3 linked regions of the Homo sapiens genome follow. The protein of the gene in region 3 purifies or fractionates together with the protein of the main gene of each other region. This does not show direct contact. Each region holds a gene or a part of one and is shown on either strand. Other genes may lie near its edges.

Evidence for each region. The genes of interacting proteins can lie anywhere in the genome.
Region 1: the proteins of EFNB1 (region 3) and FAM114A2 purify together in Homo sapiens (co-immunoprecipitation; 2 studies listed by BioGRID and IntAct, with this or other methods). This does not show direct contact.
Region 2: the proteins of EFNB1 (region 3) and ERGIC1 purify together in Homo sapiens (affinity purification with mass spectrometry; 3 studies listed by BioGRID and IntAct, with this or other methods). This does not show direct contact.

Annotation. Positions count from the first base shown.
Region 1 is NC_000005.10:154,000,901-154,007,923, reverse strand, and holds part of FAM114A2 (protein FAM114A2), read left to right. Parts: intron 1-4,954; coding exon 4,955-5,077; intron 5,078-5,533; coding exon 5,534-5,673; intron 5,674-7,023.
Region 2 is NC_000005.10:172,829,288-172,837,260, reverse strand, and holds the start of ERGIC1 (endoplasmic reticulum-Golgi intermediate compartment protein 1), read right to left. Parts: upstream 3,011-7,973; 5' UTR 2,848-3,010; coding exon 2,828-2,847; intron 1-2,827. UniProt on the Homo sapiens protein: Possible role in transport between endoplasmic reticulum and Golgi.
Region 3 is NC_000023.11:68,831,998-68,839,020, reverse strand, and holds part of EFNB1 (ephrin-B1 precursor), read right to left. Parts: intron 405-7,023; coding exon 127-404; intron 1-126. UniProt on the Homo sapiens protein: Cell surface transmembrane ligand for Eph receptors, a family of receptor tyrosine kinases which are crucial for migration, repulsion and adhesion during neuronal, vascular and epithelial development.

The DNA.
Region 1 (7,023 bases), on a different chromosome or scaffold from region 3:
CTCTGTGAGCCTCATTTTTTTCTATCTGTGAGGTGAGTTGTAATAATGTAGAGTTCCTGTGAGGTTTAAATGTGTTCACACACATAGCTCTTACAAAGGGCCTGGCTCATAGTAAATAAATGCTCACTGTTGATGGCTCCACAGAAGACAGCCCGATGTCCTCTACATGTAGCTGTTCAATAAATATACATATGTGTTCAATAAACCTTTATTATGCTTAGTAATTTGCTAGGTGCTAGGGAAATAATCATGAAAAAGACATAGTTTACATGCTTAATGAGAGATCACATTAATACGTATTTTTGTAAGGCCAGTAACTCCTTATCTGTCTGGCAGTTCTCGCCATTCTCTGAAAGCAATCTTCAGATTGTTTAAATTTTAGGCATTGAGACTTAAGATGTAGATTGGTTAAGGATCAAGGCCTTAACCATTGGCCCTCAAAAGATTTATATGGCAGGCTGTGATGTAGGGGAAAGAGCACTGAATTAGGAGTCCGGGAATATGATTCTGTGATTCTGATTCTTGTTCTAATACTCACATGTGGTGTGGCCTGGGGCAAATTCATTTTCTTCTGTGGGCCTCATTATTTTTCTGTTGGAAATAAATAAGCTTTTGGAGAAGCCAAGTTCAAAGGTACCTATTGAGATCTGCAGATCTCAACAAGTGGGAAGTTCCAGACTGAAATGTGGTCGTGGATGACATTAATTATTTTGGGAAAGGATAATAAATTACCTTGAGTTGGCACAATAGTTCATGATGATTTCACTTAATATATTTATTACAAGAGAGGTCACTTTGGGTATGCTCTATGCCTACTAAAATATCTCCTGGCCAGGCGCGGTGGCTCACGCCTGTAATCCCAGCACTTTGGGAGGCCAAGGTGGGTAGATCATGAAGTCAGGAGTTCAAGACCAACCTGGCCAAGATGGTGAAACTCCGTCTGTATTAAAACTACAAAAATTAGTCAGGCGCAGTGGCAGGTGCCTGTAATCCCAGCTACTCGGGAGGCTGAGGCAGGAGAATAGCTTGAACCAGTGTGGCAGAGGTTGCAGTGAGCTGAGATCATGCCACTGCACTCCAGCTTGGGCGACAGAGTGAGACTCCATCTCAAAAAAAAAAAAAAAAAATCTCCTTTGGGTATATTAAATTTATGGTATCCGTTTTTTCTTTTATGTGGTCTATCACTCTCCATTTTTCTTTTTTAATCTCTGATAAATTAATCCTTCATTTTTTTACTCAATTTGTCTCTTCAAAGATATTGCAAAGAATTTAACATATTGTTTGTATTATTAGTCAACTGTTATGATTCTTTCCAGCCTCATCTCTCAGTGTTCTCTTCTGTAAACCTCACTACTCCAACCTAATTTTCTGTCACACTCCTCATCCTCTATATTCTTCCTTACTGGCCTTTATTCTGTTTCTCAGGTGTACCAAGCTGATTTCCCTGTGCTTACAACTCTCTTTGCCTAACTATTTGTATGGCCAATTCCTTCAGATTTCAGCTGAAACATAACTTTTCAGAGACCCTTCCTGACCACCCAAACTCAAGCCACCTTCTACCCATACCCACCGTTACTCCATTTTATTTTCTTTATGTATGTTTTTGTTTGTTTGCTTGCTAATTGCCTTATTAGGAGAGAGAAGAGCAGACTCCTAGTTTGTATTATTCACCATTGAATCCCCAGCACTGGCACAGTGTTAGTATATATTTGCAATAAATGAATGAGTAAAATGCCAGTATCCTATATTTTGGTCTTGCTAGATATCTCACTGTTTGCCTACACACTTTGCATTTTTCTGTTTCCAAGCCTTTATATAGTTCATGCTGTTTGGTGTTTTGAATTTGAGAGGTTAATGCTTAAGTAATGGGAAGGTATAGATCAGAGCTAGATTGTTCCTGAATGTTTTTGTGGGAGGATATAGGGAAAGAACCCTACAGTGAAATTCTGGGAACACAGGTCTGCTTTAGCTCATTCGGGTAGCCTTGGGTGTAGCCCCACTTGCTGATCCTTCAAGGCCTAACTCCAGTACTGTATGTGTAATAAAACCTGTTTTCTCAGTTAGAATGACTCTCAAAGTCTTCTCTGGATTCCTATTACCTCATGACAGCTTTGAACACATTCTGTGTATGTAAAGTTAATAAACTAGGTGGTAATAAACAGTTTCTGAGAAACCAGGACTCTTTCACTTGCAAATGACAGAAACTCAAGTTAAGAAACTTAAAAAATAACAGAAACTAATTTAAAAGAGGGGAATTCAGTAGCTCAAGAAAATAGAAAATCAAGGAGCAGAACTGGCTTCAGGCATGGCTCTATTCAGGAACCTATCTCTATCCCTATCTGTGTCTTTCGGCTTGCTTCCTTTTTGTTTTGGCTTCATTCTTAGGGAAGCTTTTCCATATGGTGGTAAAATGACCATTGGCAGCTTCAGGGTGGGTGACTTTTTTCCATTTCGGTAACTCTTACTGAAAGAACACTTCTTTTTGCTGATAATTTTACCAGATGTCCTGAGACTGATGTCCATTGATCTGGCTTGGGTTACTTTTTAATCTATGCACCACTTACTCTGTGGACAGGGGTATTAGTATTCTCAGTAGCTAAATCTGAATGGTTTGCCAACTTTTGGAGCCAAAAGATGGAAGCAGCTGCACCCAGGTCACATGAACTAAGGAGAATCTAGAACCTGCCACCAAAAGAAAGGAGATATGGGTGCTGGTCATATCCATATCCAAAACAGTAGATGTTCTTCACAGTGTGCTGGACACTGGGTGTGCAAAGCCAAATAAAACACTCTCTAGCTATCCTATAATACATAGTTTAGTTAGGAAACAGATAATTCTACTATATTTGGTTAAGTTCTGAATTTAAGTTACCTGAAAGAGATGATGTCTGGGTAGAGGATTGAAAGAACAAGTACAGTAGAGGTCATTCTTACCAGAAGATAAAGTGGAAAATGATAAGAGATGAGGCTGGAAAAGTAGGTAGGGTCTAGGTCATGGAGACCTGTTACATCATGTAAAGAGCATGATCTAGTTGATGAGGAGCCATTGAAGGAAAGAGGAATGGTCAGCCCTGGGCTTAAGACAGATCACTGGTAGCATTTTGGAAGATAGATTTAAGATAAACAGATCAGAAGCAGAGAGACCAGTCATGAAGTGGATCTGAACTCAAGTAGTGGTAATAGGGAGGAGGAAGACGGGAAGAGGATGATGAGGGGCTTGGATAAAATCAGACCATCTTGGTGATTGGTTGGAGAGGAAAAAAATCTAAGATGGCCCCTATATTTTGGCTCAGGTAACTGGTACCTGGTGGCACCTCTAAAACTTTGGGAAATAAAAGAGGTTGAAAAATTTGGGGTAAGAAGAGAAAGACAATGAGTTCAAAGTTTTTATTTGTTGTATGTGTGATGCCTGCAGAGTATTTTGTCTAGCAGACATTTGGAATAAGTTTTCAGGAGAGGTCAGGTCTAGAAATAAGGATCTAAGAGTCAACAGCAGGTTGAGGATAGTTGAAACCACTGGCATAGGATGGATGGAGAGGGAATAGGATGAGACGAGTAAAGAGTGAAGGCTAGACCTCCAAATAATATTGGCGTTTAAGAGACTGGCCAGTTAGGATCAATATATAAAAGATACTGAGGAGAAATGGTCATAAAGGTCAGAGGAGAACAGAAGAAAGTTGGGGTTACAAAAACCAAAGAAAACTAGATTCATTATCAGGAGAATGGATAAATTGTGATATATACAATCATGCATTGCTTAATGATGAGGATATGTTATGAGAACTGCATCATTAGGCAGTTTTGTCATTGGGCGAATATCAGAGAGTGTACTTACACAAACCTAGCTGATGTAGCCTGTTACACACCTAGGCTATATCGTTTAACCTATTGCTCCTGTACAAAACTGTACAGCATGTTACAGTACTGAATACTGTAGGCAGTTGCAACACAATGGTATAGAAAAGGTACAGTAAAAATATGGTATTACAGTCTTACAGGACCACCATTATATATGTGGTCTGCTGTTGACCCAAACATCATTATGTGGTGCATGACTGTATATAAAATGAAATACTACACAGCAGTTAATATGAATGAACTAATACATGCAGCAACATGGATAAATCTAACAGACATTATGTTGTGCTTAAGCCAGACACAAATTAGAATGAACTTATATTTCTATTTTTATGCATTTTAAGATTAGGAAAAATTATTTATAGTGAGCAGAAGAGGGTTTGTCTTTGGGCAGGAGGAGGGGGACATGGTTTGAATAGTATTGGCTAGGAAGGGACATGAAGGGACCTTCTAGGGATGAGGAAATATTCTATATCTTGATCACGGTTTCGTAGGCATATACACATAAAAACATTTCTTAAGCCATACTCTGAAGATTTGTGCACTTTATGTAAATTATACCTTGGTTTTTTAAAAAGCTGATTAGAGGCCGGGCGCAGTGGCTCATGCCTGTAATCCCAGCACTTTGGGAGGCTGAGGCAGGGGGATCACCTGAGGTCAGGAGTTCGAGACCAGCTTGGTCAACCTGGCGAAACCCCGTCTCTACTAAAAATACAAAAATTAGCTGGGCGTGGTGGTGGGCGCCTGTAATCCCAGCTACTCGGGAGGCTAAGGCAGGAGAATCGCTTGGACCCAGGAGGCAGAGGTTGCAGTGAGCCAAGATTGTGCCATTGCACTCCAGCCTGGGCAACAAGAGCGAAATTCCATCTCAAAAAAAAAAAAAAAATACTACCAATTAGAGAATTTTGAAAAGGAATGATGGACCACAGTGATAAGTATTGCTGAGACTAGTAGGATAAGGACTGAAAAGCTAGATGGTACGTTCAGGTAAGAACAGGAGCCCTTACTTCTAGGATGCTATTGTGTTCCTGGTAGGTGCACAGTAATTTTGGTAAACTGAATTGAATTGTTGATGGCCAATATTTTTCTTATTTAGGCAAGAAATACCGCCCACGAATGGATCAGGAAGTCTCTGACCAAGCCATTAGCAGAGAATGAAGAAGGAGAAAAACAGTCGGAAGCAGAAAATACTGAGCAAGTCAACAAAAATTCAATAGAGGTAGCCAAAGCAACTAAGCCTTTTTTGTTTGTTTTAGTAGATTTGAAATGTGTCACAATCAGGGACCCAGGCTCCTATTTTTACACTGCTGTCCGTAATTTCAACCTTGTGATCTAGGATTGTAGCATCTTAGATCCAGACTATAAGATTAAAGGAGGAGTGAAGAAAAAAAGAGAGAAAGGATGCGCGTGTGTTTTGTCATGAGGAAGGTTCCCAGAAACTGCTGCCTGACACTTGTTATCTAAATCATTTGGCCAAAACTTAGTTACTTCGTCACACCTGACTTCAGGGGAGCCCAGCTGTAAAATTATATCACTACTGTGGAAGAAGAAGACACTCTTTATTGGAAGGCAACTATTAGTCTCTGCTACAAATCCTGTAGTATGAGAGAAGTAAGGTGGTATCTTTCCACCAAATGTTTTGTTTTGCTATGCTTTGTTTTGTTTTTCCATCCAGGATATCCATGCGTTTGCAATCCGGAGCCTGGCTGAACTGACTGCCTGCTCAATTGAACTATTCCACAAAACAGCTGCATTGGTTCTGCATGGCAGGAAGCAGGAAGTGACAGCCATAGAAAGGAGCCAAACTCTTTCCCAGTAAGTGTAATGAGAATTCCTCTAAATGATGCAAATTGCAGGAGTTTTCTTGGCCTGTTTCCAAAGTTTTATAAACGTCTCTCTCAAGAAACCATTCACGTCACACCCATCCACATATTAGATGGTTTGTTCATTTTGGTTGTTTTTTTCTTTTCATTGAACCATGATAAATCAATATTATAAATATGCCCTTTTTATTAACCAACTCATGCTCTGAAGACTATTTCTTTACAGATAAGTTTTAATAGGAATGGAATTTGGTATAAGTGAAAACAGAGAAGAGTTCTAAGAACCTCAGTTCTTAATAATAGTTATTATTGAGTGCTAATTTTATACCATTCCAAGTGCCATGCTAAGGGATTTGCATGTATAATTTCTAATTTTTATACCTCCAAAAGTAAGTAATTAGTCCAGTTTTAATCATGAGGAAATGCAAACTGGAGGAGTTAAGTAATCTGTCTGTGCTGTATGGCCTGGGATTTAGCCCCAGGTCTGACTGAGTGTCCTGAACCCATTCTTTTTTTCTCATTTTATTGCTGATTTGTACAAAAATTTTTCAAAAATAGTATAGATAATCATAGGTAGGGAAGAAAAAGCCCAGTAGTTTCTAAGCAAATGTCCTGATTAAAATAATGAGAATTTTCATTGGAAACAAATGTATAAGAGTGCCCATTATTAGAACTGGGAGGGGCTGTCAGTCTTCTGCAGACTTCCTCTTTACTTGCACCATCACCATCCCACTACAGCACCCCATAATAGGGGGCTAATTTGTCTTCTTGAACTTCCTTAAGGATGAGAGACTCACAACCCTAAAAGGAGCCTGTTCTGCGGAAAAGAGGCTATTTCTGCTACTTGGAATGTTCTTTGAAATGGGGTTCACTCCCTCTCTGAATTCAAGTCTACTCAAATGCCACCTTTTTAGAAAAGCCTTCCTTCACCACAAAGTCTAAAATAGCAACTTCCACCATTCTCTGTCCTTTTACTCTGCTTTATTGTCTTAGCTTATATCACCAAGTAGGACTTACATGTATATGAATATATATGTGTGTATATGTATACATATGTGTGTATGTGTATATATGTATATGTATATAGTCTCCCCCTTAATTTAGCAAGTAAGTTGAAATCCATGAAAACTGGGACTTTTCTTGTTCACTGATATGTTCCCATTGCTTGAAAGACTTTAAATAAAATCTGGCACACACAAGACTTTAGGTAACTATTATTAAAGATGGACTAATCACTTACTTTTGGAGTTGTTGTAAAAATTAGAAATGATACATGTAAATCCCTTAGCATGGTGCCTGGCATAAAATTAGCACCCAGTAACTAATAACTAATAACTAATAA
Region 2 (7,973 bases), on a different chromosome or scaffold from region 3:
CACAGACAGGAAAACACAGAACTCAGTTGCACCAGGCTCTACAGGCAGTAAGAAAATCAGAAGTATCCGTAGGGAAGGGCAAGAGTGCACTATTTTTCCTGCTTCTGATTTTAAGAAGGGGAACACGAGCAGGACGGCTGGTTTTCTCCCTGGCCTTGAACTGGGGGAGGAGGTCTAATCACGGTATACCCCTCTCCACTCCCCACAATTCTTAAAAGAGCTGACAGGATGGTGGGCCCCTCCAATCTCTCCCTTTTCTCCCAGATCTAAGGCTTTGGAGCTAACAGCCCCAAGTTCAAATCCCAGATCCACCAGCTCATGCACTGCATGGCCAGAGCAAAGGGCTTCTACTCAGTGGAGCTCCCCTCTCCTTTGATTTAAAATGAAGATTAAAACTCCCTCTCTCAGGTGACAAGGGAATCGATGTCTGCACCCCAAAGTGTGTATACAGTGGTAGATGCTCCTTGCGTGCCAGTTCACGCACACCCCCACTCCTGGGACCCCATAAGCCCTCCTCCCTTCTCTTGGAATGCAAAGAGAGCCGGACCACATGCCACCCACCTCCTCACGGTGGGGCCTGTGGCAGAGGGCTGAGCATGGACTGGACACTTGATGAATGCTTGATGAATGCACACTGAAGCGGAGGAAGGTGCATGGGGATGGTCGAACCCTCAGTAGAACCCAGGTCCTGGAGCCTTGAAGTTCACAGAGCTTAAAGAGTGCAGGTTTGCTGGGCACACATGGCTCATCCTCCAAGGTGCAAACGTGAAGCACTGAATCCATTCTCACCATTCCGCAGTGAGCCCAAGCCCTGAGAGTATTTCCTAGTTAAGCTGGGCCCCCTGACACCTGGGCACTCAGGGACCTGAAGTATGCCAAGGGAGCCCCAGACTAGCCAGCTTCTCAGAGCTGAGCATTTCTCTCTTTAAATATCAATGCCTGACACAGGGCCCTTCCAAGGCCAAAGGCTAGAGCTGGCCTTACCCATTTTCCTTACTTCCCTTACCTGCCCCCACAAGCCACCAATTCAAGGAGCACAAGGTTGGGAGCCATGTGTGACCTGAGACCTAAGTCTACCCTTCCCATTTAGCACCCATAAAGTCCAAGATAAGGCCCTCATCCCTGGAGCCTCATTTCCTCCTTGGTAAGACGGAAGGGTGAGGTGCAGGGAGAAAGGATTAAAAGATCAAAAACAGCAATTTCCCCAGCAAGCTCAAAATCACCGGAACCTACTGAATCACACAGGGGCAGGGGGCGGCGGTGGCACGAATCCCTATGGTTGGCCTGGGTAAGGGGAGGCTTTGTGGAACCAGAAATTGATGTGCCGACCACAGCTCTTATGGCCCAGACTTAACTGATGCTATTAGGACTGACCTTGAATTCCACCAGAGGGGCTGTCCTTGTTCAAAACTGCCTAGGTCTGCTAGCCTCAGGGCTGCCCGGCAGGGGCAAGAAGCCGGCAAACATTTGCTAGCTGGTATCAGGGACCCGGACAGGCTGGAAAACCATGTCAACCAATCAAGAGGTCCAAGACCAGTGTCCTCTTTGGGCCTAAACCCCAATATATCCCATGCTATGGGGGTCATGGCAGGCTAAGGGCCTTTCTCTCTGGGTAGACTGTCACTTTACACTGCCTTCACATGCAAGAAGAGGGGAAGAAATACCTCCTGTGGCACAGGCATCTGAATCACTATTTTGTGGATGTGGAAAACCCCTCCTGGAGAACACCCCCCATCCACTAATGCCCTATTTCTGAGCTCTAAATCATGCCAGACTCTGCTAAGGGTGTTTCACGCACTCAGTCGTCACAAGCGGAGACCTTATTTTTAGCCCCAATTTGCAGGTGGTGAAACTGAGGGCGCTCGGAGACTTGCTGAGGTCAGCCAGCCGAGCGGCGACAGGGAGTTCTGAACCCAGAGCCTTTGCCCCTAACTTCTAGAATATACCGAGCTGTTCAGTAGAAAGGGCAGAGCCAGGATTCTAATCCAGCTCCTCCCTGCATTAAAGCCCTGCTCTTTTCCCAGCCAGACACCAAGTGTGGCTGCCTCAGGCCAGGACATCCCCTGGGGCTCCACACCTCAAGGGAACCTCTGGTGGAGATCTCTTCCCCCGCAGGCTTCCAGAATGCCCCATGCAACCTAGACCATGAGGCAGCTGGACCCCACAAAGGACCCATTGTGGTGACTGCAGAAAGCCAAGGCCAGACCCCGGTGGCCCTTCTGCAGAGTCCTGCCCAAGGCGCCTCCTCCCCTTCCCATGGTGCCCCCATACCCAGCGGACAGGGCTGGGGCTGAGGGAGGGAGGGGCGGGGGCAGGCCTCCCGATCTGCCCGGCCTGGGGGAGCCTCAGGCTATAGAAACTTAAAACCCTCCAGCTGCCGGCAGGCTGCATGGGGCCCCAGGCCCCTCCGGACTCATTCCAGGTGCCCTGCCCCACCTGTCAGCTGAGGTGGGGTCCACCAAGGAGGCTCAGTAGAGGGAGGAGAGGGATGCTGGGGTGTTATGGGCTGTTCCCATCTGGGAGGAGGGAGGAAATGTTTCCTAGTGTGGGGGAGGGGAATGCAAGGTATCCGGGCAGGCTGGGGAGGGGGCTCGGCGGAGGGAAGGTGGGTGGATTTGTCTCCCGCTGCACGAGGGGGCCTCCGCGGCTCTGGCTGGCTTCGTGTGCGGCAGGGGGGGGGCTCGCCTGGGGTCCCTAGGGGCCTGCGGAGGCATGCACAGGGCGGGGAGCCGCTTTTGCATGCAGGGCGGGAGGGGTCCGCGGCGTGCCGGGGCGCTCCCTCTGCCCGCTGAGGGAACTCCCGACTGGCCGGGGTCGCCACACTCACCTCCTGAAGTCAAAGGGCATCGTGCCGCCGCCGGGGGTGGGAGCGCTGCAGGCCAGGCGGGCCGCGGCGCCGCGTGGGTCCGAGCCCGCTGCCAACGCCTCCTCCGGCCGCCCCGCCCCCGCCGGCCGCCCCCCTGACACTCGCCACTCGCCACTCGCCACTCGCCTCCCGCTGCCGGGAAGTGACGCTCCGCGCAGCCCATTGGGCGCCGCCCGCCCGGCCGCCCCTTCCGCCACCCGGTTAAAGGGGCCCGCGGGCAGGCAGGGAAGGGGCGGAGAGTCGAGGCTGTCGGAAGGGAAGGGAGTCCCCCAAAGACTCCAGTACTCATTCCTTCAAGCCTCCCACTTAGATTTCCTTCTCCATCTCTTTGGATGCCCTCGGACAAATTCTCTGCTTCTCCGAGCCCAGTTTTTTGCATTTGTAAACAGTTTCACTGAACTGTGATTGAGTTGGGGGCGGGGGGCGGGGTGATACAGACTTTGGCCGTGCACAGCGTCTAGCTCTGAGTGAGGGCCTAATACTGTGGGGGAAGGGAAGAGGTCGGCCATCCTAGGCTGTTAAGGTGGACTCACCTCTGCCCCTGCCGTGTCTCTCTGGGAAAGCCACTGGGCTTCTCAGAGCGCCCCCCCCCCGCCCCGCCCCTTTTGCATATCTGCACAAAGAGGACGATGACACCTACTTGAGGGGGTTTTCCTGGGGATCAGCTGAGAAACAGGAGACTGGCTTAGCACAGTGCCAGGCACCTGAAACTATTGAGGCTGGCAGTGGCTGTCCCTGCTTCCATCTGCCCCTGTCGTTCACTCCAGTGGGCATTCACAGAGCATCTGCTCTGAACCAGGTCCATCGAGAACATGCAGGGTTGTGGCAGAGGCAGATGGGACCTGCACTGTGACTTGGCCAACGTGGACTGTGCCGATTGTCTCCTTCTTAGAGCCTCAGTTTCCTCCTCAGGAATACAGAGCAGCTGCCTCCGTGACTGCTGGATTAGAGGAGATGGTAGTTGAGGTCACACAAGACCTGAGTAGGGGAAACTCACTCTGAACTTCCCCGAGGTTCTGTCACTGGCCCTTTCTCCAAGGTTGTGGTGGGACAGGGCTTCAAAAAACCCAGGGGAGAATGGTGAGGGCTCGGGTTCCAAAAGCAGAGTCAATGGACAGTTTCCCCCTGTGTAAATAGAGGGGAACAGCAGTGCTGGTTCCTCCGGGAGGATTCAGAAGGGACAACACTAGCACGGGGTCTGGGGTAGGGTGACGTGGTGAACCAAAGCCTTCCCCTAGAGCATATGCCGGGACCTGACCTCTGCGTTCCCTTTTCATTCATTCACTCATTCATTCATTCATTCATTCAGTGTCAGTGGTCTGACACTGTTGGGGGAGAAAAGGAAATCTCAGCCTGAACTGGAAACCTAGGGACAGCAGGGAGAGTTAAGGGATCTTGAGCAGCCACTGCTTCCAAACAGCCATTCGTTGGCCCTGTGTGGGAGGAAACATGCAATGATGGATCTTTGACCTCGAATCCTCCCTCCTCAAACTGTGGTCCACAGACCAGCCACATGGCCATCACAGGACAGACTCTTGTCCCCAGGCCAGACCTACTGAATCAAGTGTGCATTTGGGATGATATCCAAGGTCAGCAAATGCCTGGCACAGAGTAAATGCAAGACAGGGTTGACTATCATTGCTCTTTTCGAGTGGGGATAGAGCTCCCAACTTTTGGCTGGGCATGTGGGTGCTCACAGTGAAAGTTGCATTTCCCCAGCTTCCTTTGTAGCTAGATGTGGCATTGAGAAGTAAAGGGAAGTGTCTTGTGGGGCATCTGGGATAGTTGGTATGTCTGCTTTACCCTCTGTGTCCCTTTCTCCATCTGGCTGCCAGGAATGTAGGCGTCACCATCCTGGACCATAAGGTGGAGGCCACCACAGAGCAGAGCAACAAGACAAAAAGAGCCTAAGTTCCTGCCGGGCACAGTGGCTCACACCTGTAATTGCAGCACTTTGGGAGGCCGAGGTGGGCGGATCACCTGAGGTCAGGAGTTCGAGACCAGCCTGACCAACATGTGGTGAAACCCTGTCTCTACTAAAAATACAAAAATTAGCCGGGCGTGGTGCCACACGCCTGTAATCCCAGCTACTCAGGAGGCTGAGGCAGGAGAATCGCCTGAACCTGGGAGGCAGAGGTTGCAGTGAGCCCAGATCACACCACTGCCCTCCAGCCTGTGCGACAGAGTGAGACTCTGTCTCAAAAAAAAAAAAAAAAAACCTGAGTTCCTGTCTCTAAGTGGCAAAATACCTGTCCTCAAACACCTGCCCAAGAGAAACAAACATCTATCTTATTTAAGCTATTGTTATTCTGTATTTTCAGACACTTACACCTAAACCCAATGCTGATACACCTATGCAGCCTGGCTAGCTACTTGACTGCCCCAATGCTCATGGACTAGGCCAGTCCCCTATTACATAATCGCATGGTACCTTGTAGGTTTCCTTGGGAGAACTGGGCATGACGTGTGATTAGGTTATTATTAATTCGCTAGTAACTACTACCCCATCTGAGTGAAAGTTCCCTGAGAGGGGCCTGTCGGGGGGTAGGGGGCTAGGGGAGGGATAGCATTAGGAGAAATACCTAATGTAGATGACGGGTTGATGGGTACACAAACAATGATGCCATACACAAATGGCACGTGTATGCCTGTGTGACAAAACTGCACGTTCTGCACATGTATCCCAGAACCTAAAGTATAATTTAAAAAAAAAAAGGAAAGTTCCCTGAGACAAGGTGGTATCACCATCATATCCTAGCATCCAGCCAGACCCTGCACATGCTGGGGATGCACTAACTATGCGTTGAAGTTTGAATAGAGGCTTCCCAGGGAGGCAGGCCTTCCCACGGAGGCAGGCCTTACCAACAGAACAGCGGATGGGAGGGGAGGTATCAACATGGGCCTCCGCTGTGGGACTGGTGAGGTCTGTGAGCAGACCAGGCTGTCAGTCCCAGATGGTCCATCCACTCAAGAGCCAGTGGGAGATGGAGCTAAGAAAATCAGATTGTGTCTGCAGTACGTGGGAAGGCTCTGGGTCTCTTTGAGCAGGGAACAACAATACAAGTTAAGTTTTCGGATTATCAATCTTGTGGAAGCCTGTGGTAGGTAGCCAGCCTCCAGTGACCCTGATCTCCTGGTATTCCCATGCCCTTCTAGAATCACCTCCCACAATGAATAGGGCTGACCTATCCTGTGTAATCAACAGGATATTGCAGAAACGACAGTTATGACTCCTGTGGCTACGTCACAAAAGACTGAGGCTCTGCTTAGCCACTCTTGAATCACTCGTTCTGAGGGAAGCCAACTGCCTGTCCTAAAGAGGCTCAAGCACGATTATAAAGGGGCCTGGTCGGTGAGGAATGAGGCCTCCCACCAACAGCCATGTGAGTGGGCTCTCTTGGAAGTAGCGGCTCAGCCCCGGTCAGGGCTTCAAAGCTGCATCCCCAGCCCACAGCTTAACCACAGGTTCTTGAGAGACCCTGAGAAACACCCAGCTCAGCTGCTCCCGAATTCCTGATCCATAGAAACTATAAGATAATAAATGTTTGCTTTAAGCCATTAAGTTGTGGGTAATTAGTTACACAGCAGTAGATAAATAACAGAGACTCCATCCTCATTATTTTTTTTTCCTACCAGTAACTTCTCCCTGCCTTCCTCCATCTCACCCCCCGCCAGCCTGGGGAAATAGAAAACCACTTTGGACTCAGATCACTCTCTGCTGGGTGACCTGGACCAGTTGCTTAACTAGCTGGGTGTCTAGGTATGAAATGAAGGATAATAATACCTTACCTGTGGCAGGTAGCCTCTGAAATTGTCCCAATTAACCCACCTCTTGGTATTCATACCCTTGTGTAATTTCCTCCCTTCAAGTGTAGGCTGGACTTATGGACTCATTTCTAATGCACAAAATATGGCAGAAGTGATGAGCATGTTGCTTCTGAGATTAGGTTATCAAGAGATGGTGACTTCTGTCTTGGACACTCTCTTGCTATCTCTTGGATCAGTCACCCTGGATAAGCTGGCTTCTGTGTGTGGCTTCTGTGCCCTAAGGAAAAGCCCCTGTGGGTGAGTTTGCAAGTGATTCTTCTAAGGCAGGGGTGTCCAATCTTTTAGCTTCCCTGGGCCACGCTGGAAGAAGAAAAACTGTCTTAGGGGCCGGGCGTGGTGGCTTACGCCTGTAATCCCAGCACTTTGGGAGGCAGAGGCAGGTGGATCACGAGGTCAGGAGTTTGAGACCAGCCTGACCAACATGCTGAAACCCCGTCTCTACTAAAAACAAAAACAATTAGCTAGGCATGGTGGCGCATGCCTGTAATCCCAGCTACTCAGGAGGCTGAGGCAGGAGAATTGCTTGAACCTGAGAAGCAGAGGTTGCAGTGAGCAGAGATGGAGCCACTGCACTCCAGCCTGGGTGACAGAGGGAGACCCCGTCTCAAAAAAAAAAAAAAAAATAGAAAAATTGTCTTGGGCCACACATAAAATACAGTAACACGGGCTGGGTGCGGTGGCTCACGCCTGTAATCCCAGCACTTTGGGAGGCCATGGCCGAGCACCTGAGGTCAGGACTTCAAGACCAGCCTGACCAACATGGTGAAACCCCGTCTCTACTAAAAATACAAAAAATTAGCCGGGTGTAGTGGTGGGTGTCTGTAATCCCAGCTACTTGGGAGGCTGAGGCAGGAGAATGGCTTGAACCCAGGAGGCGGAGGTTGCAGTGAGCTGAGATTGCGCCATTGCACTCCAGCCTGGGCAACAAGAGCAAAACTCCATCTCAAAAAACAAACAAACAAAAAAACAGTAACACAAACAATAGCTGATGAGGAAAACAAATCACAAAAAATCTCATAATGTTTTAAGAAAGTTCAAGAATTTGTGTTGGGCTGGATTCAAAGCTGTCCTGGGATGCATTCAAAGCCATCCGGGGCCACAGGCAGCCTGCAGACCACACATTGGACAAGGTTGAGCTAAGGCCTGACAACAACCCTGTGAATGAATTTGGAAATGGATCCTTCTGCTCCAGTGGAGGCTTGACATGACCACGGCCCTGGCCCCCAGCTTGACTGCAACCTCGTGAGAGACTCTGAGCCACAGGCAGCCAGCTGAGTTG
Region 3 (7,023 bases):
GATCAGATCCAGCAGGGTCTTAACTACATGCAATAGCATTGCACCACTTAGAAGCTCCCACTACTACAGGAGAGGAAAGAGTTAAGCCCAGGGAGAGAGCCAGAGGATGGGATGGGCGGGACTCACAGGTAATGTAGTAATCATGGTGCTTCTTGAACTCCAGGCCCATGTAGTTGGGGCTGAACTCCTGGAACTTGATGGTAAAGCGTATTTCCTGCTCTGGCCTATTGCAGGTGACCAACACGTTGGGGTCGAGAACTGTGCTACAGGCAGCTGCCTGCTCAGGCCGCACCAGGTACAGCTTGTAGTACTCATAGGGCCGCCCTGCTTCTGCTCGGGGGCAGATGATGTCCAGCTTGTCTCCAATTTTCGGATAGATCACCAAGCCCTTCCCACTCAGGAACCTGCCCAGAAGGAAGAAGATGGTCAGCCTCAGGGTTGGGGGTGGCCCCAGGCCATTCCAGAACCAGGGAAGCGGACAAGAGCCGGGCTGGGCCTACTGGGTGGAGATGGCAAGAGCAAGCCTTCTGCCCTTCCTCCATCCTCAGGCTGGGGGTGGGGAGAGAGAACCACACTACCAGGAGAGTGTGGAAGGGGTGGCCCATGGGCAAGGCTGCCAGGCTCTGACTGCTCGGCAGGGTGGAGCACTGCCTGGCTGGGGGAGCCCTTTGTCCTAATGTGGCATTTCCGCAGGGGGCTGACGTGGCCAATGGGCTGGGTACCAAGGTGTCAGGCCCATGCTACCTGGAGGTGGCAGTCTTATATACCCCCACCCCCAACAAAGATTCCTTCATGACCGCTGCTACTACCTCTCCTATACCCATACACACGTGCGCGCGCGCGCGCGCACACACACACACACACACACACACACACACACACACACACATACACACACACACAGCAAGCCCACACATGTCTTAGTCACCACTCCCCGCAGCTCCCAGCCAAAGGCTGGGGGAGCTCAATCTGTCTGGGACCCATGTCTTCTCCCCCATCCTTACTAATCTTGGTCATGATGGAAAGATAGGAACAGGCATCGCCTGGAGCAAAGGGATGATGGCCACAGTCTCTGGCCAGGTGCAGCTCTGCTCACTCCCACTGCCTATTGTCCTACTGGCAATTCATCCCACCCTCAAAATGCAAGAGCCTGAATTCCTAAACTTGATTCATCTCATTCTTAAAAAGAACAGAGGAGAAGAGAAGGGGCTCAACCAGAGACAACAGATCATAGAAGATAGGGCCTCATCTGTATCCTAACCTGTCACCTCTATGTTGCTCCTACTCCAGCTCCTGAGAGGAGATGGACAAATGCCTTTTGAGCCAGGTTCATATTCTAATCCAGAAGGCCAGGCACTGGGGGACAGCAGGGAGGGTCAGCAGCCCAGGACCACCTATCCATAGGACTCTGTCCTTGCCTAAGCACACAGAAAGAAAATGGTGCTCCATTGGCCATTTCTGAGACTGGATGGGCTGGTGCTGAGAGCAAGGCAGAACCATGTAGGAGAAAGAACACAGACTTTAGAATCAGATTCCAAAGCTAGGCCCTTACTAACTCTGTGACCTTGGATGAGCTGCCTGTTCTGAGCTTCAGTTTCTTCTCTTGTAAAGTGGGGGTGGCAAGAGCCCCTACCTTCCAATATTGTGGTGGGGAGACAAGGCAGCACATGGAGAACACCTAGCACACAATAGGCGTTCAACATGTTTGACTGCCTCTTAGAAGCAGTCTCCCAAGAGGCAGGAGGTCAGATACTAACACTAAGTACCTATGAGCTCACTCTCATATTTTGGAGGGGAAACAGGAAGAGAAGATATGGCTCCATCGTCAAGGACTTTACTGTCCAGTTTGGGTCAGAAAAGTAAATAACCCATACTCGAGTGATAGACAACACCAGGCTATCTGTAGGTATGTGTGAGGATGATGATTCAAGCAGCAAGGGCTGGAGGCAGGGAGAAGAAAGAGATAGCTCATCTGACCAGGATGGTCAGAGATGTATCCACAGGAAAGGCAGGATGAAAGTGGGTCTTAGGTGAGGAATAAGAAGTCAACACACTGAGACAGTAGACAGCAGTGGCTACAACACAAAGCCCAGGCCAGTGATTGGTCCAGCTTGGCTGGGAGTGAGAAGAGAGAAACAGAAGAAGAGGTGAAAAGTTCACCTGGGGCCAGACTGAAAGGCTTCAAGGGTCACAGCAAGCAGGGTGGGTTTCATCCCATTGGAGACAGGCTCTCAGAGCAGGAAGGACAATGGAAGGCTTCAGGCAGTGCTTAAAGAGAATGAAGCTGACAGTGTCATGCACCAGTTCACAGGCTACCACAATCATCTGAGAAAAGAGTGGTTCCATTTCCTGAGGGCCCATTACACCAAAGGTACTACAAGCAATACCGGCCTACTGGGAACTCTGGGCAAATGCCTTTGCAATGCCAAACCTGTGTCCTCATCTGAGGGAGGGAAATGATACCCAAGTAGGCGAAGAGGGAAACTGACCACATGGATGAAGTGGACGAAGAAAAGCAGCCTTTCCTCCATGTCGAGTGAGGCTCCACCAAATTGGGAGCTGCCATCTTGATGTGCAGGAGGGTAAAAGCCAGAATGAGATGGCCTCCCCACTGGTACCTAACTATAGAGGGCCCAGAAAGGAAGTAGGCATGGGATGGAAGCCTGGATAAACATTTCAGATGGAATACCCCTGTCCCATGCACCATACAAAGCCAACAAGTTTCCCCAAAGCCTCTAGAATTCTCCAGGCATTTTTTCCCTTTCCAGTGCTCACAACGGTTCCATCCAGATGGCAGGATTAGACAACTGCTCACATCTTAGAGCCAGCAGGAACCTTAGAGTCCAGGCCCTTCATGTGAGGGAATGAATGATCAGATGAATGTTCCCATTGAAAAGAGGGGTCTAAACCTACCCAGGACAATAACCCGATGGGTCTAAGAGGCCCTAAAACATTACCTGAATCCTTGTACTGTTGCATCTTAACAACACATATATATGCAGCTACATAGAGGGCACGGAAAGGGAGACAGGCCAGCTCAGCTTTCTAACCACTCGGTTCTGGCTTACTCACCAGGGAGTCCTGTCTACCCCAAGTGCAGTCTCCCATTGCCACCCAGGTTCCAGAGCCCTGGAATTGGAACAGGGCTTCTAGCTAATTGGGGTTCTACCTTGAAGCCAGAGGCATTGAGGAAACAGATGTCTACATGATGGAGGAGGGGGGAGAAGAGAGAACTATTGCCCCCAAAACCCCTCAGAGTCTCTTCAACCTCAGTGAACAGACTTCATAAATATTCATTAGTTCATTTGCATGGCAGCTGGCAGAGGGAAACTCACCTTCCCCTGAAGTGCAGAAGGGAGCGGAGCCTGATGAGACCCGCCTTCCCTGACCCTGATCCCCCATACTGGTAACCTTAGCATCTTCCCGACCACTGGGCAAACCTCGTCTTGACCTGTCAGAAGCTCAAGAGAGTGGTAACGGGCCATAAGGGATGGGTGTATAGCCAGTGAGAGTGAAGGCCAAAGCTAGGTAGAACACTAGTCATACTTTAAAGGGGGACCCTACAGTTCTCCCCTCTTACCAGATTAGGAGTAGGAGTAAGGGAAGAGGAGGAAGAGATATCCCGAAGTGAAACTCTTTATCCTCCACCTTACTTCCCCCCACCCTAGGACCAAGCCAAGCTTTTCTGTCTGGGGCCACCCCCAGACAAAGCCCTTTTCTGAAAAATAAAGGGATTGACATGGCTCAGCAGGAAGCCTGAAGCAGGTCACCATGGTAACCCCTGAGGCCTTCCCTCTCCAGCCTCAGATAGCCCTGGGACCCCAGGGCGCCACCCCAGGGAGTAAAAGGACTTGGGGGAGGCGGCCTAAGCTATTCCAGCTCTTCCCCCTCTACCCTAACCCAAGTTCTACCTTCAGCCTTTCTACCTAGCTTAGAAGCACCACGATGCCATCACTGCCACAAAGAATCCTGGGATATGAAAAGCCTGAAGGGGTTGGGGACAGTAGCCTCCAAGGCCCTGGACTGGCCAGAAACCAACTAACCAACAGCCCCCTCCTTGTTTTCTCCGGATAAGCCCTTCTCCACCCATGTGAATACAATTTACAGGGGGCAGGGAGAGCTTGCAGCTAGGAGGGTCTTGCCCAGAAAGCTGCCCACATCCCACCAGGTCTATACTTCTTTCCCTGTCACCCTGCTCTCAGGCTCTAGCAACTTGTGGTCAGAGAATGACCAAAGGGGGAGCCTGGTTCTAGGCCATGCAAGCCCAAGTCTGGTAGAAGCCTCTAGCCTCAACCTCGATTCAGTGACCCCACGACCACTGCACCTGCACCTCCCAGGGTGGCAAGACCAATGGAGGACAGACCCCAAGCCAGAGCTCAAGTCTGTTCTCATCCCAGCTAGGGTGGGGAGCCCCCAAATTAAAGGCTCCTCTTTAACTCCCCCAGCTCCACCCAGCCCCCGAGGCTGGCAGGAGCAGGCCTGGCATGTCCCAGCAGTGCCCGCCCAGGCGTGGGTGGGCAGGAACAGCAGCTGGGTCCTGGCACACACAGCTCTGTCAGAGGCAGGGAAGCCAGGAGAGTCCTGGAGGAAGTCACCCTCCCCATCTACACTGAACTATGCCCTTCCCTCTGCCCCACCTGGCTAAGGCTCGTGTCCATTATGAATTTAATACCCCCCCTCCTCGATGTCGATGTCTGCTTTCTGTGGGGTCCCTGAGAAGAGAGATTCTTAGCTCAGAGAGGAACCAAAGGTGCCACTCAGAGCTCCGCAGGGAGTGTGCCAGGCAGTGAGTTGGCTGCCTTTAGTTCAGGTCACCCAAGCAGTCAGCCCTGGAAGGTAGGCCTAGAAAAGTCAAATGAGGAAGTTGGAGCACTGCTCACCCCACACAGACAGGGCCTGAGTCACAGGGACAGATGCTTGCACACCTGCGAGGTAAGAGGGGAACTCAGGGGCAGGGAGCCAGGGCCTCTTCCCAAACCCCACCTTGAATTCCTGTCTCTCCTACATTTCAAGGCAGCAGGAATGAATGGCACACAACACAGCTCTGCCCCCATAGGCAAGTCATTGACTGGCCTTAGACAAGTCACTTCCCTTGTCCGGGCATATGCCTTCTTATCTGGAAAATGGGACCAATACCTACTTCCCAGGGTTGTTGGGAGCATTCGATGAGATCATATATGAGAATGCATTGTAAGTAGCAAGGTGCCGCCTGCCTATTAGTTAGCATGCCAAACACAGCATTATTTAGAAGTAAAAAGCTGAAGGAGCTTACATTCCTGGCTGCTAGCACCCTGACCCAAAACAATGATCGTGAAACACGCCCAAGAGGGGCTGCTATGGTCTGCGGGGTAAGGAACCCAGAATGTGGCTGGTGAGCACCCCCGTATCTCAGCTCCTCTAATAGTCACAGAGTGGACTCTCCCCCAAACCTGGTGTTCCCATGGCAACTAGCAGCCTCCTGGCTGGCCCACTCTATCTCCTTTAGTCCCTAACCCCAGAAAACAGTGATGCACCATAGTATCCAGGGCCCACGCATCCCCATTCACCTGAGCGGATGAGACAACAGAGAGCCCAAGGGAAGAAAGGGAACCCTTGATTCAGTCCCCACCCCAGCCTCACAGGTCCTTCTTGCCCTTGCCTGGCTGCCCTATGTGGGAGAGGGGAGGCAGGGGAACAGGGGACTTTAGGAGCTGCTGGATTCCCATCACTCTCAGGCTCCCACCTGTGGCCAATCAGCCACAAAGTAGAAGAGGTCAGGTCCCTAACCACCCCGGAAAAGGGCCCCCTGAGCTGGCCTCCCCAGGACTGTGAGCTAGAACAGCTGTGTGGGGCTGGGGCCAACACTTTGGCTTGGAGCAGGCAAGCATGGGTTGGGGTCTGCAGCTGCCCCCACCCATGCTGGAGTCAAGGGTCCTGGATGCCAAGCTGAACCCCCCCACCCCCACCCCCTTGTAGGGAATGTTTGTAATGTGATCTCAGGCACATTCTGACTCCCTGGAGGTGGGGGAACCTGAGTGGGGGGCAGGAAGGGGTCAGGACGGGACTGAGAGACTGAACTGCAGCAGCTGGACTTGGCTGAGGACTCAAGTGTGAGGCCTGCCGGCTGCCCCAAGTTCCCAGGGGAAGAGGCTGCGGGAGGGGTCGCCTAGGACCATTTAGATAACAGCCCCCCAACTCAGACACACACACACACACACACACACACACACGCACACACAGAGGTTCCTAAAAAAAACTCTAGCAGGACCAAACCCATCCCCCCACCTTGCGCTCATGGGGCAAATCTGACAGGAGGGGCCAAGGAGGCAGAAGCTCCTGCCACTCAGGGACTAGCATCCCAGAAGGCCCCAGCACCAATTTGGGAAAGAGGCTTGGGAGTCTTGGGCCAGCCATTCCCGCTTCCCCTCTCAGTCAGGGCTGGGGCCGGGCCGCACGCACCTTGGAACCTGGAAGCGGACCCCCAGCCCCACCACTTCTTTTATTTTGATTTTTTTTTTCCCAAGAAGGAAGCAATTAAGCAGGGTTTATAGGCACTGGGAGATTTTCTTTTTTGGGAGGGGGGTTGCCAGCTTCTGACAGGGCTGAGGAGAGAGACCAAAAGCCAGGAGAGGAAGAGGGGAAGGAAGAGAGAAAATGAGCCTGAGAGGGAGAGCACGGGCATGTGCGAGAAACAAAAGGACTTGAGAAAAAGAGGCAGAGAGTGACTAAGAGTGAGAGGGAGTGTGAGAGCAAGGCAGAGCAGGCGAGCCTAGCTGGAGAGGGGAAGTGAGCGCTGCTCGCGGAGGGTATGAGAGGGCGAACTGACACGGGCCTGAGAGGAGAACTCGGGCAGGAGGCAGAGAGGGAGGGAGACAGAGAGGGACTGTTTATTTGAAAGGCTGTGGCAGCCTGAGGGTTGGGCGCGGTGGCAGAAGCAGCCCCCAAAGCTCAAGGAGAGCTGAGGGCAGTGCCTCCTTCCTGTCCATTTGCCCCCACCACCCCGAGCCAACACATGTAGACAGTGGCTGCATTCCAGACCCCTGA